Regions from separate parts of the Homo sapiens genome. Here region 2 is linked to region 1. The links come from fine-mapping of genetic effects on gene expression. Tissue or cell type: blood mononuclear cells. Region 1 holds a variant in brackets; the other region holds the start of a gene. All regions are shown on one strand. Distances are between the middles of the regions.

Region 1 (8,187 bases):
CCCCCTGGTGGCCACTATGAGGCTCGCTCCCCGGACGCCGCCTCGCGGATCTCGTAGATTTCTCATCTCCCGCTTTCCCTCTAGGACGCTGCCCATCACCTCCCTCGCTCTCCCTTCCTTCTTATTGTCAGCGTATTCATTCGGAGCCCTCCCTCGGCGTGACACGTCCCGACTGCTTTGGCCCCAGGACGCGGCCACACAGAGCCGGCCATTGTTGCTCCAGTTCTGGGACCACCCGGGTGGGAGAAGGGGAAGCGCGGCCGCTGCGGAGGCCGCTCGACTGACGGCAGCCTGGGGTCGGGGCCCGCGGCCACCCGGAAGGAGGGCGTGCGCCCGGCCCTGCCCAGCCCGCAGGCAGCCACAGCCCCGCAGCCCCTGCGGCGGGGATCCAGCCTTCCCGCCACGCTTCCTCCAGGCCCGTTCAGCTAACAGAACTCACACTTCTGTTTTCAACACTGTGTAGATGAGTCAAGGATTTTACTTTTTTTTCTATGCCTTTACTTATAGGTATAGTGAGGTAAAGTGAGATTTTTTCTCTTGAAAAGGAGAATTTTGCTTGGGTGGGAAGGGACAGTGGTGGTACCAGGATGAATGTGGATACAGGAGGACATAGACTCCTAACTTCTGAGGGTAGGATTTAAATATTTTGTTAAATGTAATAACTTATAAGAAACATTTTAAAAAATGTCAGCCAGAGGCTGGGTGCAGCGGCTCACTCCTGTAATCCCAGCACTTTGGGAGGCTGAGGCAGAAGGATGGCTTGAGGCCAGGAGTTTGAGACCAGCCTGAGCAACATAGCGAGATCCTGTCTCTACAAAAAATAAAAATAAAAATTAGCCTGGGCGTGGTGGTGTGAGCCTATGGTCCTAGATACTCGGGAGGCTGAGGATCGCTTGAGCCCAGGAGTTCGAGGCTGCAGTGAGCCATAATCACAGAGTGAGACCCTGTATCTTAAAAAAAAAAAAAAAAGCTGTGAACCTGCATATTTTTCATAGTTCCATTTGTGAGCACATGTGTGACTACCACATGTTGGGATCTAAGGCCTGCTTCTCCACCCTCTTTGTCATACTCTGGCTGAGAGGCACTTCCCTTAACCATAAGGGGCTTTCCACAGACCTCCCACAGGCAGATGACCTGCTTCTTATGTCTGCATTGTGGAGGTGGCCAAAACCCAGCGTGGGCTGCAGAAGGGAAGAAAATGGTCCCGGCAGAAGGGAGCACTTCCTAGCAGTGGATTGATTTTATGCGGCACTTCCCAGAACGTTTCACAGGGGGCAAATATTGATCTGCTCAGGGTGGCCAGGCTTGGTTCCCTCAGTTTGTGAGCAGCCTTTCTTTTCCCAAACTGGTCATGTAAATACCACATATGCCTTCACAAAAGTTAGGGTGTATGGTTCAAACATAGCGATTTGTAAATTTTTTTTTTTTTTTAGTCGTAAGATCTGTTAGAGAAACCGATTGAAATTAAGAATTTTACCCCCAGAAAAAGGCAAATGCACAAAACTTTCCCCACAACTTCAAGGGCGATGAACCTATTGAACTCTCATGTGGATGACCTAGGGGTCCATGGATCCAACTTAAGAGCCTTTCCTCTAGGTGGCTGCCACCTGCTGGTAGAGAGGGTCAGATTATAGGCTCCAGACACTACTTCAATCTGGAGATTTCATGATATTGCCTGCGAATTCTTTACTAAAAAGCATGATGAAAAGTAGTCATCCGTAAGCTGTTCTTAATGAATAGAGCACCAGCACAATGGCTGTTTCTGGAAATCCCTTGAGATCTTAGTTAGCTCTTTTCACAAATGGTGGTAATAATCACAGAGATAAATCTACCTAATTTGGAGGTCAGACAGGAAGTTACTTTTTCGGAAGGGCCCATGGTGGTATCACACTTTTCTAATCCCGACATGGAAATGATTCAATTCATCTGAGAAATTTGAATCTGACATGGACAAGGAAGTATGGCCTGCTACAGCAAAGTGCTCCGCTCACCTCCTCCTGTTTCCAGCTCCAGTTCTTGGAGTTGAGCAGGAGAGCATGTCCTTACTTATTTTCTTGTGGCTGGCTCTGCCAAGATTTTACCTTGCTGCATGGGATCCTTCCAGAGACTGCCCTGAGCTTATTGTAATATTTCCATGAATGGAAAATGTATTTTTCTTTGAGGAGAAGAATAACAACAACGTGCAAAGATGTTAATGTAAAACTATTTTTTTCTTTATTGAAAATACATCTACAAAGTAATGCTTCCCAGTCCACACTGAGTGCATGTGTATGCAGAGCCTGTGATGGCTTGGCGAGAGGATGGGCTCCCCACAGGACCTTTCCATAAGAAATGGTTAGTATATTAAAAAACACATATTGTGTAACAGAATTAAGTTGATATGATTAAGTCTTTGCTCTACTAGTGTCTTAAGAGGACAGCCACGTACTTTAACATTTGTAGTGTATTTCCGAAATAGAGCCTCGACATTAAATGGTTACTGCACCACAGCCTAATGTTAACTTTTATGCACAGAATGCTTGGGGTCTATATAAAAATATCTCTAATTGTATATCAGAGGATCTATGTCTAGATTTTTCAGTTTGTTAGCATAATTAAGTCCATTCTTCACCATTTTCAGCCAGAAACTCAAACACAGCTGCTACTGCCTGACAGCTCCCACTCAGCGTCTTTGACTGGATATTCCTTAGGGGGTAAAAATTAATCTCTAAACCTGGGAGCTGCCTTGCCTGAAACTAATGCCCCTGCTGTTTTTTTCTCATAACCTCATTGACAGTGTCTTCATACTGATTCATCTTCTACCATTTCTCTTATGGACACAAACAAAACAAAAGCAAACCCCACTCCAGCTGAAAGTTTTGAATGATTTGATAAGTGGGATTCCAAAACAAATAAATATTTTGTTTCCCTCATTCTAAGGACTTTTGATTAAAGAAAAACACTTTCAAATAAGAAATACCCACTCAACTCATGGACTTCTATTAGAGAGCTCATTCATTTGACTTCTTTCAAATATATAAGTCGTCTTATGTTTTGGTAAGCAGACTTCACGGGGGGAATGATTTTGGACTCGAGAAAAAGTGTTTCAGGTGAAAAAAAAAGCCAGAAAAATGAACCTCTTCTTTTTTATTCTTCCTTAAAGAAGACCTGTACTCTTGGTGTTTTCAAATCCTTTGTTTGTAATGTTGCCTGTGCTCAACTCTTTCCTAGCTCTTTAGTGTTCCACAGTGTGACCACAAGCACCCTTGCTAGCTGCTAGTCTTCTCATCTGTTTTCGAAGTCTATCATCAGTTGAGGAGTGGCAGGAGACATTCTTCCCAGAGTAGGAAAGAAGGGAATACTTCCCCCATTGGGATGAACTGGGCAAAGAGTTTGATGAATAATCCCACTCCTGGAATGGCCTCCTGCCTGGCGACTTGCATAACCTGCACTTTGCTCACAGGACCTGGTGACCACCACACACAGCCATCCTGTCCTTAGTTAGAAATGTTCACTCCCATTGAAGTGTCTTTTCTGAAGGCCTCGTGCTCCATGGATGGTACAGGGTGTTCTGAGGGGAAACAGAGGGCAGGTGCTTTCATGACATCACAGGATGTCTGGGCTGGAAGAGACCATGAAGACTTCTAGGGAAGTCCCTCATTTTATAGATGAGGACACTGAGGCCTAGAGGTGAGATGGGACTTGCTCAAGGCCACATGGAAACTTTGCCTTCTGTCTGTCCTCACAGCTGTGCTAGATGTATATGTGCACCTAGCTACTAATGAAATAGGTATACCAGTCAGAAGAGAAAGGGATAAAATCTTACTGTCCAACTGATAACCGGTTGTAATTCAAGTTGTTAACATTTTGAAACTAAAACTGAATTGTATTCTGAAAGATTTTTAAATTTCAAAAGTTGATTTTAAAATGTTTTTAGCCTACTATTTGTCTCTTTAACTTATATAAAAAAATCACATTTATAGGATTGTGTGCCACATAAACTTGTAAGATCTGATCAACACTATTTGTGATCTTGGTACCTTATTCGGTAAGACTAACATGAAATGATTTAAAAATTTCAATTGTGGGATGAAAATTGTACACTTTGGCCACCCAAAATCCTCCCTTGTGTTTTGGAGGACTATTTTCCAGTCTTATCAGAAGGGAGGAAAGGGAAGATGACGGGCTTGCTGGAGCGAATGAGCTGTAATGAGATGGAAAGATTTTATAATGGTTTTTAACACCTGGTGCTCAAGAAAGTGTTTCTTTATGTTAGTCTACATCTTGGTTTCACTGTCGATGGGTTTCTCAGTTTCATTGTCCTGTGCAATCAGTTGATATGGTTTCTTCATTTCATTCTCTTCAATCACTGAGTTACCCATTTCAACATCTCTGTTCTTCAGTTCATGTCGTGACAAGTGCTCCACAATCCCAGCTCCCAGGGAGTCTCCCAGTACGTTGGTGGTGGTCCGGAGGCGATCCCTGCAGGCAGGGTGGGGAGGAGGGAAAAACGAGGCTCCCGTGAGCATCACAAGTTTTCAACTTACGTTAGGAACTGGCCAGCGAAGCACCTCTTAACATTCAGTTCGCCGTATCTACCAACTGCAAGATTACGTAATAGACACATAATATTCATAATAGTAGCTATTAAAGGTTAT[A/T]AGGCCATATAGATGATGAATGTTCAGTTATTAGTTTGACTGAAGTGAGAGTCCCAACAGTGGGGAACGAGCCTTCTCTTTAAGCCATTCTCATAATAATACTAAGATGTCATTTGTCCCTCTCAGTCTCATTTTCTCATGAATGTATAGTGGAGTTTTGCAAAGACTACATGATGTGTGATGTCACAACTCACTGAAGCAGTTGTGAAACTGCAGAAACAGGAAACTCCAACTGTCTTGTATTAAGCCAGACATTAAGAAAACTTGCAAAACATAAAATAGTACCATTCTTTTCACTAAATATTGGGGTCGAGGCCGGGCACCGTGGCTCACACCTGTAATCTCAGCACTTTGGGAGGCCAAGGCAGGTGGTTCACCTGAGGTCAGGAGTTCGAGACCAGCCTGGCCAACATGGTGAAACCCGTCTCTACTAAAAATACAAAAATTAGCCAGGCGTGGTGGCGGGCGCCTCTAATCCCAGCTACTCAGGAGGCTGAGGCAGGAGAATCACTTGAACCCAGGAGGCGGAGGTTGCAGTGAGCCAAGACTGTGCCATTGCACTCTAGCCTGGGCAACAGGAATGGAACTCCATCTCAAAACAAGTAAATAAATAAAATAAATTTTGGGGTCGAAATGGTTGTTTTTTGCAAAAAAATGCTATTTATGTTAGCATATATAACCTTTTTGTTTAAAGATGATAATAAATTCATTCCATTATTTTATTTTATGAATTATTATCACCTTTAAATAAAACATGTAATAAATTAACAAGTGGAAATTTATAAGTGTGTCTAATATGATAAATATGAATAGATACAACCCATATAGATCAAATGCTGTTTCAGTTCTCAATAATTTTGAAGTGTAAAGATCAAAGACTGTGGAGAACTGTAGCTTTATATGAGAGTGCTCATGTTAACTGATGCTGACTGTGGGCCAGACAGTAGGCTGCATGCTTTCTAGGCATCATTGCACTGAATCTTGCAGTACCCCTAGGAGGTAGAGGACACGGGCACCCTCATTTTACAGAGGTAGAAACTAGGGTGGTTGGGTAATCTGCCCGGTCTCACACAAGGTCAGGACACAAACACAGGTCCAAGTAACTGGGGAGTGAATCCTCTCGCCCAGTCTGGGGTTTCACGCACACTGTCAAGCTCTTTTCATGTTGCAGTTCTAGTGAACATATGTTGTGTTAACTCCAACACGTACTCTGTTCTAGGCTTTGCTTTGGGCATCCTGGGGAAAGATTTTCAAAAGTGGAAGGAAATTTTTAAGAGAAAAGGCACAGAGAATGCCAGCTGGAAGAGCGAGGGAAGGGGGCGAAGGGATGGGCCTGTAGAGGTTAGAGTTTGAGAATGTGGAGGGCACATTTCTTGTAACTTTCCCTAGATCCGAAACTCAATTCCACTTAATGACACTAGCTCTCTTCCCAGTGTCGGCATAGCTCAGCCTCACCCTATTGGGCTAGGATGGGAAAATCATTCCCACTGGAATGGGAAGCACACAGAGGCAGGGCCTAAGCTGGCATGTGGGGCCTGCAGCTTTGTTCCAGCTGCTGTGGTGTCATGTTGTGCAACTCAGAAACAGCCTTGCTGATTTATGTTGCCTTTGCAGACAGCGGGTTTCCCAATTCCTGAATGGCTTTATGGAGTGAGATGTGTGGCAGCCAGATGTGCCCCTTAGGCTGACAGGGGAGTGAGTGCACATGGCATCTGGGGCTCGGTCTCCAGATAAGGACCAGGGGTCAGACAATAAGGACAATTTAACTATGGGCCGAGAGGCCCCTCTCCTCAGAGTTCTTTCTGTAGATGTGCCAGGCTGCCTGGTGCCCTAGAGTGACAGAGGGGGACCCTGTGACAGTGAGCTGGAATGCAGGCCAAGCATACTCACAGGAACCAGTCCACCGCGATGATGAGCGTGATGTCGTCAGTGGGCAGGCCGACAGATGTCAGCACAATGACCATAGTGACCAGGCCCGCCTGAGGAATTCCAGCTGCCCCAATACTGGCAGCTGTGGCTGTGATGCTGTTAACAGAAGTACCAGAACAGAAAACACTTTTACAAAGCTCCCCACGTAGAGCATATACGCTGCAAAATACGCACGGTGCCGATGCCTGACTTGCCATGTAACACAAGAGGACGCGCTTCAGAAAAAACGTAAATGAGATTTTTTTTTTTTTTGAAACAGTATCTCACTCTGTTGCCCAGGCTGGAGTGCAGTGGTGCAAACTAGGCTCACTGAAACCTCTTCCTCCTGGGTTCAAGTGATTCTCGTGCCTCAGTCCCCTGAGTAGCTGGGAATACAGCTTCATGCCCCCACACTCGACTAATATTCGTGTTTTTAGTAGAGCAGGATTTCACCATGTTAGCCAGGTTAGTCTCGAACTCTTGACCTCAAGTGATCCACCCACCTTGGCCTCCCAAAGTGCTGGGATTACCGGCATGAGCCATCATGCCTGGCCCGTAAATGAGATTAAAAAAAAAAAAATTGAACTAATCATCATGCTAACTAATATTTATCATGTGCTTACTATGTGTCTTCTGATATACTAAGCATGGTTTATCTAATTTGGTCCTCGTACAATGACCCTTGTGAAGTTGGACCTATTATTCTAGTCGTTTTTAAATAAACTGGCAGCTATACACTTTTAAACATCCCTGAAAGTATTTTGTAAGGCAAAGTCTAAAATGCTGTAGAGTTACAATAATAATTTGTTTCTAGTAATTCCCCTATCCAAGTGGAGGGTTGTAAAGTTACTGAACATTCATGATTAATGTTGTCAAAAGAATCAAATTTGGTTTCTTAGTTTGGTTTGCTTAGTTAATTCAAAAGCAAAATGATTTATGAACAAAGTTTTATAGTATTAGAAATACTTTTTATGAAGGCAGTGTAGACCTGGCTTGCAAAGCAAATGTTTTATAAATAGTAAAGTATTATCTGGTTATAAGTGGTATTAATAAAGTATTAAGTCTGTCACAGAAAGTATTCATGGTCCCCATACTGGTCCCCTTCTAAGATACTGGGACTTTTAGCTGGTATATGGCTCCCCAGAATGAAGACTACACTTCCCAACCTCCCTTGAAGCTTAGATTAAGTTCTGGCCAGTCAGACATGCATGGAGGTACTGAGCAACTTGCAGGGTATACCATCTCCCCACTTCCGACTGACTAAAATCTGGGGGTGGTGAGTCATCCCGGACCACCTGGATAATGATAATACCCTAGAGACTTAGTCTCTTATACCACAGAGCACCTATCAATCAGCCTTGAAGGCTTTGTGGAGCAGAGCTGTGCTGCATGAAAGAGAAATATATTTCTATCTTGCTTGTCACTGTTACTGTTATTTTTAACTCTGTCACCTTTTTTTTTTAATAACCCAGAGCCTTTCAATCAATATGCCAAAGTATAGGTTACAGGTGAGCTGAGATAATGATCTCCTAAGTCCCATTATAACTACTTTGGGCCTGAGGTTCCCAGAACCCCCAGGTCAGTCATTGACCTCTGGCCCTGATCAGCCTTTTCCTTTTTACTCCGATGCATCCTACTACAA
Region 2 (8,168 bases), 81 kb after region 1:
AGACTGTATTTTGCATTGACTTCCAGGACAATGATGTGGGACTGAAATATTTCACCCAGGAATATATTCAAGCCTGGAAACCTACTGTGGAAAGCCATTACTTCTCTGGGTCAGTTAGGACATGTTCTCTTTGAATATCTCTAAATTAATTGAACCATCATTAATCACCAGTGATTACTAATGGAAGACAATGATGTTAAAATGGGATGTATCTAAAATCTTGTGACAAACTCTCCTGCTATACTTCATTTGTCTACAATTTAAGAATTCAATTTTCTTGAAAAAAGTTATATTTACACACTACAGAATTTTCTTAATCTTTATTAAATCATTACCTCTTTAAAGTTGATGGAAATCTTGGCAAACTCCAAAGTAGAGATTAAAACGGTACTGAATGCCTCTTTTTTGGTGGCAAATTGGTAGGTTAAGTTGGAATATTTTTACAACCTGGCATTGGCGTATATGTTTGTCAATCTAAGGATTTCTGTATTGGTTTGGTCAAAAATTCCAAATAAGTAGGTTTTTTCAGCTATATTTTAAAGTAGGATCAATGCCACCCATAAGTAATAAACTATAACTTTTAAGATCAATAAACAAAACAAAACAATAATATTTTATTAGTACAGATTGCTGTCAACCCTGCTAAATTAGTAAGAGATGGAAATGATTCAAAAAAAGGTATAGCTGGTTATGGCAGGCTCTGCAAAGCAATGAATGAAAGAGATCTGTGTTAACATTTTCCCCAATCTACCTTTCCCAGTTGCTGGGTGAGAGAGTGCAAACACATAAAATATTCGGTCTCTGTGCCTAAGCGTTGATACTCAGCTTCAAGTCAGCACCAGTTAGAATATAATTACTATTTGGAACCAACATGTCATTTTAGGTGTACTAATTGTATAAATTAGTTTTAAGTGCAACTGACATTGTATATAATTACATTTTGGCCAAATCTAGCATGCTTGCTTTGTCATGCCTAATGATTAAATGATCACTTCCTTATCCTTACATGAAATGGGAAAATATTTTATTTATTTTTCTTCCTCACACAATTGATTTGCATAATGCCTAATGATGCCTAATGATGTGTTTACTATATATTGCTCCAAACAAGCCAAAACAGTCATTTTTATGGAGAAAAATCATCAAGTTCAGAGGAAAGCCTAGGCTACCATTTTGATACCTACAACTAGTTCATCTGATAATATTCCCCGGGCAGCCAGATGCCCCAGAGAAACAAGATACAGGTTTTTTTGTTTTTAATCAAATGACTCACCCACAATGACAGCGGTGACTGTGAGCAGCACAAAAGCATTCCGAAACAGGTAACTTTTAACATCCTCCTTTGTAATGTTCTGCACTTTCTTCTTGGCCAAAAGTGTGCGTTTACGGACTCCCTGCTGGAATCTCTCCATCCTGCCCCCCATCTTGGGCTCTTCTCCATTGCTTTTAGTCATATTTTACTTTTCTAGGAGGGTCTCTTCTTTGCACTTCAGTGTCTGGGAATCACCCACAGAAAGCCAAACCTCCTCTTTGGTATTAGAAAACACAACTAGAATGGGAGAAAAAGAGACATGAGTTATAGCCTCCAGGGGTGAGAAATCAGTGCTGCTCCACACCAGGCAAGCTCTTGGCAAATTGCATAATCTCAGCAGGAATCAAGGACTGGAGAGCCACAATACCAGACCTCAAGGTTGCAGTGTGCATATTTTAGTGGACCACGTGTGAGAAATGTGCATAAATTCGGAATATATTCTATTTTCTTTTTAAAAATCCGTCCTTCCCCTTCCAATGAGGCTATAAAAGGGTTCTTCAGAGCTAGATCTGACTGAGAACCCCTATTCCCACCCTCCCCCGCAGAACCCAGCTGATGCCTTGCACAACGTACACAATCAGTAAATGTCCAATTGAACTGAATGCACAGAAAGTATTCAATCATTACTTGACAAATTATGCTGTATACATGGTTGAAAGCATAACCAGGTCAATAAAAATAATTAAGATACTGATAGGTGGGAGTTGTCTCTGTTACATGCAGTAAAGTAACCAGCTATTTTCTTCATTAAGAAAAAAATATAATAATATCTACTAGTAAATATGGTCATAAAAAGAACACAAGTGCCCACAGTACATGGGAAATACATGTGACTATTTTACAGGGTAATTTTTTCATTTTTTTTCCATGAAATAAGCAAAGTGCTCTGGGCACATCTATAAATCATCTGAAATCACAATTCAGCTTCGTTTATCACAAGTAGAAGTATGAAGTAGTGTTTTTCTTTGTGACACACATGCTGGAATCTTCCGAGGAAACTATCGCTGACTTTTTAGCGTTTTAAAATTTAGGATTTCTAGAACAGATGAGATGAAACCAATTTTCATTCCAAACATTACAGCTTGTGGTTTCTGGTTTCTTTAAAGCACTCACGCTATTTAACTACATTTCAGTAAATCTCTTTCCTGGTGGAAATCAGCTGTTCTGAAAAATCAAGGGATTCCTCCTGGTGCTTTACAGGAGCTCTAATCCATAGCCCTTCCCATAATCAATCCGAGTGAAAACCAGCCGTACCATGGATGTGTGTCGCTGCCAACGCAAGCAGCCAGCGTGTGCGCCTGTGGGGGAGGTAACTGGAAACCAAAGGACTCCTCGCAAATGACTTCTCGCAATCCCAGTGCAGGAAAAAAAAAGACTTGTCTTAACAGTTTGCCTTTTAAATAAAATTGCAAGTTGGGGTCAGTGATACTAAGACTTCTAATTTGTTTAAGACTTCACACTGGATTAAATGCTTAGGGAGAAGTGAAGACCGGGAAATAGGAGAGACCAGATTTTTTTTTTTTTTAAACTAATAGCTCTGATTCCTCTTACCAGTCACTTTTAAGCAGATCCGCTCAACCTTGATCCTTTTCTAGATCTCGCGCCACAATCTGCCCCCAATCCACCCCGAATGACTCAACTCCGAATTAACAGCGGACCCGGCATAAACAGACACCACACTCTCACGACGTGAGATGACTAACAAGGACTTTATCTACCAAAATGGCTAGCCTTGATTCAGGCTACTCCTCTGCTTGGAAGGCAAAATACATCGGCAGAGAAGTGAAAGGAGAAATTAAACCCAGCAGGAACACAGAATGTGACACTTACCTTTTCTGATTTTGTAAGGGGTGGAAGATATCAAGCAGTAACGAGGTGAATTCCCCAGCAGGTACAACGGAGCAACAATCCGCAGCGCGCGTAAGCAGGCAGGCTAGCCCTGACAGTGTGCATGTGCTCTGAAACTGCAAGTTACTATCAGGGCAACTTAAGAAAAGGGGAGGAGTCTGTGCCCGGGAAAGGAGGAGTGGGGAATGGAAACCGCACAGGGAGGAGGGGGAAACCCCGAGGTTTCTGGAATATTGATTAATCTTGGCACACCAGAAGCAGGCTTGCTGGCTTTGTTTTGCTCCTTAGACCACTTTCACGCTTTGTCAGTTCACTGTCATTAGAAATGCAAAACCGGGACTAGGAAGAATTGAAAAATAAAGCGCACACAATCGGAAAGCTGAAAGTCTTGATTAGAACGTTTCAAAGACTTTTCTAAGGCTAAATTTAATTACCTCACATTATTGCATGTTTCCTCCCTTTCAGGGAAGACGAGGGTGTGCTCTTTAGCCTGGTTGTACAACTGTTACGAGAAAGTTCCTTTTTCGAATCGGGGAATTAACTGACGTTTCTTGGGAAGACACTGAATGCAGACAAGTATGTAGAAAAAAAATAATGCTTACTACGATTCTCTAAATTTGTCTAAAGTTAGGGACATGCCTCTATTTCAGCAGTTGAAACTTCAAAACTTCATTTTAACAAACCTAATTTAGCTCACACTGCCTGTGTTGCAAAGACGGAAAAGGTAGCAAATGTAAAGAGACTGGAATTTTTGCCAAACTAGAAAATGAAAAGCATTTTAAGACCAAGAGTGCAAAGTACACTTGAGATTTGGTGATTCAAAAGATAGGTTGCTGTTCAGATGTCTCCATTTTAAAGGATGCTAAATGTTCTCCCTACCACACACAACTTTTTTAGAGCTAAAAAATTCTCATTGCCTTGAGAAGGTAACTTGAGCTTCTAGTCCACTTTTCTTAAAAGAAAAATAAATTGTGAAAATAGATATTAGAAAATAAAAAAAAATTTTTTTGAGGTGACTTATTCCCAAAACTTAAATCTTCTTTAGAAGGAAGAAAATGGTTCATTAGAAACAAAAATTTATACCAGAATCACAGCCTGAGGTTTGGATTCTTGTTCACTGAATTTAATATTCCCCATGCAAAATATGCTCAATTCTTGGTCTATTATTCAACAAGAAAGTATGTCTTTTTTCCCCTCAATACAAATCTCTGGAGATCATAAAGAAATATCTCCTTTCACCCTCAACTGTATGTCCTTTTAAACAGCTACTGGTTGGAAAGCAATGGTGAATCATGTCAATGCTTTAAAATTACAAATCAGCAGCAATTATAACAGCTTTCTAACATGCTATCATTTTAAGAACTTACTGAAAGTACATGCTTTTGACATTCCCAGCCCTCAGTGACCCTTCCCTTCCTCTGATCTCCTAGGTCACTGAGCATCTATACTACATTGTTTAGCACTTAATTATACCATGTTTTGTACTGCATCCTTCTTTTTAAGCTCATGTTAAGTTTTGGTTTCTCAACTAAATTATAAGTTCTTTGAGGGCAAGAACTTGTCTTATACCTAATACAGAGTCAATATTAAGTAACTCTTTTTAAGTGGGTGGAATAATATTAGGATGTGAAACAAAACGCTTTTCAATCTTTTGTGTTAAAACACAATTACTAGTTTTTACATTGGTGCCTCTGGTTTAGGTGCATGGAGCCATTTCTCAATGCCATGACTACTTTTAAAAGCATTTATTTACTATACCAGGTCCTATCTGAGCCATGAGTTTAGGATTAATTTGCACACCCCCCCCCCCCACCGCTTTTTTTTTTTGGTGGAAATGACTTTGACTTGTATTGCAAGGGAACTCGAAAGAGAAATCTGATTTTAAATGGGGTTTCAAGCCCAGTGGCATTTCCATTTTTTGTTTTTATTTTTGTTAATAGGCAAGAAAAAGGGCTGGAAAACCACACTTTGGTTAGCATAGAGATGGGAAGACCCTGGTGCCCTTTCTTTTTCACTTTTTTTTTCCTCTCTAATCCCTAAAGCTTGGTTAAAAACCATTTCATTATTTCAGTTTGTGTAGACATTATGGGAGTCTGGTATTCTGTTGAGAAGGGAAGTAATTCACCACTGAAAGTTTTGTTGGCTGTAATAAAACCTAATGAGAAAATGAGATGCAAAGAGTCTCAGTTCAGAGTTCATCCAATTTTAGTCTGGAGGGAAACATTGGGAATTACTTCTTTAAGCACCACTTTCTCTTTCTGGAAAGCTATAGCAAAAGTCATGCCTGGGGGCCTCCTGGGTTTCCTCAACGCGTATTTCTACCTTTTCCCCTCTACTTTATAGTTAAGTCCCTTGAGCTTTAAAACATCTTTTTTTTTCCTTCTAGAAACACTAAATAAATGAAAGATCAAGAAATTATGAACAAGTCTCTGTATGCTGTATTTCATTTAAAGCTACTCAGGGTGGGAGACACAGAAGCTGGGGGATCATATTAATGTTAGTATTATCAAATGAAAAAAACACAAACACCAGCAGCAAATGCTGTTCCTGCTGAAAAAATCTGTCAAGATCTTTCTGTGAACATTGTGTGATGAAGTATGTTATCAGTAAATTCTTTCTTTGGGAAAAAATGTCAGTATAACAAGAAATAACCAAATCCAACCTGTCCTTAAAGGGAGCATTTATTGGTTTGAAGAACAAGAGATTACGGTAATAAGCACGTGCTGATCTTAGCATGGTACAGGCCAGTCAAACTTCACCATTCAAAATTAGGAAATTTTGGTTAATTGGATTTTTTTTTGAGCAACAAAATGGATTAGAAAACCTTTTAATCTTTTTTCAATATTTTCCAAGTTGATTTTTAATTTAATGATGGTTTTAAAATCATTCCTTGTTTAAATAGCTTGCATTTTAGGATCATCATGAATGTCAATTCTCCTCCTAGAATTTGGAAATTGTAGAATGCTAAGACAATGAACAGGACCTGACTTAACCCCAGAGTGTAACAGTGGATGTGTTAGAGGCAGTAGGTGTAGAAGAACTTGTGGTAGTTGTCTTCCATTTTGTTTTGATTTTTTTTTCTTCTTAAATATGAATGTAAAAAGCAGAACAACAAAAAAACCTGTGGTGAAGTCTGGTTAGTTGAATTTTTAAATAACTAGGTTTTATTTTAAAGTTATAGTCATATGAAACCTAAAAACATCCAACTACAGAGAGGTGAACTAAAATTAACTTTATCACATTCATTTATTCTTTCAACAAACATTGAGCAACCACTGTGTTCCAAATACCAGTTTCTTTCCTCAAGGAGTCCATAAACGCATCGTAATTATTAAGCAGTGGGCCAGGACAGGGCCCAACAGAAGGTTATGAGATCGCTGTGTGCTGAGGCCTATTTACCAGTTAGTATGTCAAAAAGACTGGTAGCAACTTAAGAGAAGGGGCTGTGCCTGGATCCACATTGTGTACACTGTTTCTAGCAGGTGCCTGCCCATAGCAGCCATCGTGTGGCATGGCAGGGAGCCAGTAGTGGTTCCTGCTGGAGAACAGGCCAGTAGGGGCCGAATTTACAACTTGAACTCCACTCCTAGTCAATGGGGAGCCAGCCACAGGATTTAAGCAGGGAAGTAATTTTCGTTTTAGGTAAAATGCAAAGCCTTGAAGTGACTAAGACTTGGGTTAGGAAGTCAAGGGGCAGGAGGAGCATTTACAAACTAGGTGAGTTCACATTCACACTGAAAAATACTGACCATTTGAGAATATCAAGGCCCTTGAAGGGGTCGGCTGACACTGAGCCAAGGCTGCCTCCTGTAGGTGGAGTGTGCACTCTCCAGCCCACTTGTCCTGCTCACTTCACTCAAGTTAGTTATCAGCATGTGGCTCTAGCAAGTTCTTCTGTTTTGACCTCTGATGGGGTTTCAGAAGAGGACTGAGCAAGGGCAGAAGCCTAGGGAACACCAACACAAAGGTGAAGACCAGCAAGAGGAACCCCCCCAAATAGATTCCCACGTGGCAAGAAATTACACCAACTGTTATTTTTCTCACAAGTGATCCAACAGGTGGACATAATGATGCCTTAAAAAACAACATGTTTTCTCCATTCTAAAGCTAAAGAGGGTCTGCTTTTTAATGAAGGCTTCACACATGTTATTGTTATCAATTATTATTTATATTGAAAAGTGACATTTTCCCCAGTTGCTCAACATGAGTCAAGACTTTGTAGAACCAAGAATATCCGTTTAGCTGGAAAAGATTATGTAGGTTGATTGGAATTGAAGCCTTCAGCAGACATGTTTACAGGGCTTTATAGTTTTTTAAGTACTTCTACACACATTATCTAATTTAATCTTCGTGATAATACTTTGAGGTCTATTCTACTCTATTATTACTGGTCCTGTAGACCCAGATGTTGGAGATCAGTAGGGATTGAGTAATATGCTGGGGATCATAGTCAGCGCTAAGACAAGAGTTCTTCATGTTGATTTCTCATCTTTTCCCAAAAGAAGCCCCCAGGAGTTTTTTTAAAGACAGATAGAAAAGAAAGGAAAGAACATTAAAAGGAAGGCCTACAATCTGTTATTTCTTCTGGGGAGTCAACTCTAATCTCCTCCCACTCCCCAAATCCAACGGGCTTGGTTGCCTTTCCTATGTGCTCCCAAGGCCCCCTGGGTTTAAATCTCCAGAGTCATTACCACTTTGTGCTGCAATTCTCCCTGTCTAGACTGCAGGGTCTTTGAGGGCAGGGCCTGTATGGATAACTACTGCATACTTAGGAACCAGAACGGAAGGTGCTCAGAAAAGAGTTGCTGCACCAATAAACAGATGCAACACAGTCACAAACACAAGAGGGTTCATCAGTCCATTTCCAATTCTAAGACTTGGAGAAAGGAAGTCAGTAAACATCAAACTTAAAAGGAAAAAAAAAAGCCAATGAGTTCCTTCTTCAATCATTACAATGTAAAATAAATCCAAGTGTGGCTGCTCTAATTGAATGGGGGGTGGGTGGGAT

What was found. PIP is the estimated chance that this variant, and not a neighbour inherited with it, causes the effect.
Region 2: it holds the start of SLC1A3, and the variant in region 1 is fine-mapped to the expression of SLC1A3 in blood mononuclear cells (TOPMed, PIP 0.90).

What each region holds. Positions count from the first base shown.
Region 1 is chr5:36,682,339-36,690,525 of GRCh38, reverse strand. SLC1A3 (solute carrier family 1 member 3) reads right to left here. Exons shown (of 10, transcript NM_004172.5): 9 at 6,528-6,662; 10 at 2,192-4,461. The coding sequence ends at 4,257. The region is part of intron 1 of SLC1A3-AS1 (SLC1A3 antisense RNA 1); the gene reads left to right. Among named protein-coding and RNA genes, the nearest start is that of SLC1A3-AS1, 39 kb to the left of the region's middle. RefSeq lists a silencer at 232-431 and an enhancer at 887-1,116. The variant A/T (reference allele first, on the strand shown) is at 4,638.
Region 2 is chr5:36,601,710-36,609,877 of GRCh38, reverse strand. It overlaps SLC1A3 (solute carrier family 1 member 3), which reads right to left and starts at 3,272. Exons shown (of 10, transcript NM_004172.5): 1 at 3,143-3,272; 2 at 1,274-1,549. The coding sequence starts at 1,454. RefSeq lists an enhancer at 3,066-3,165.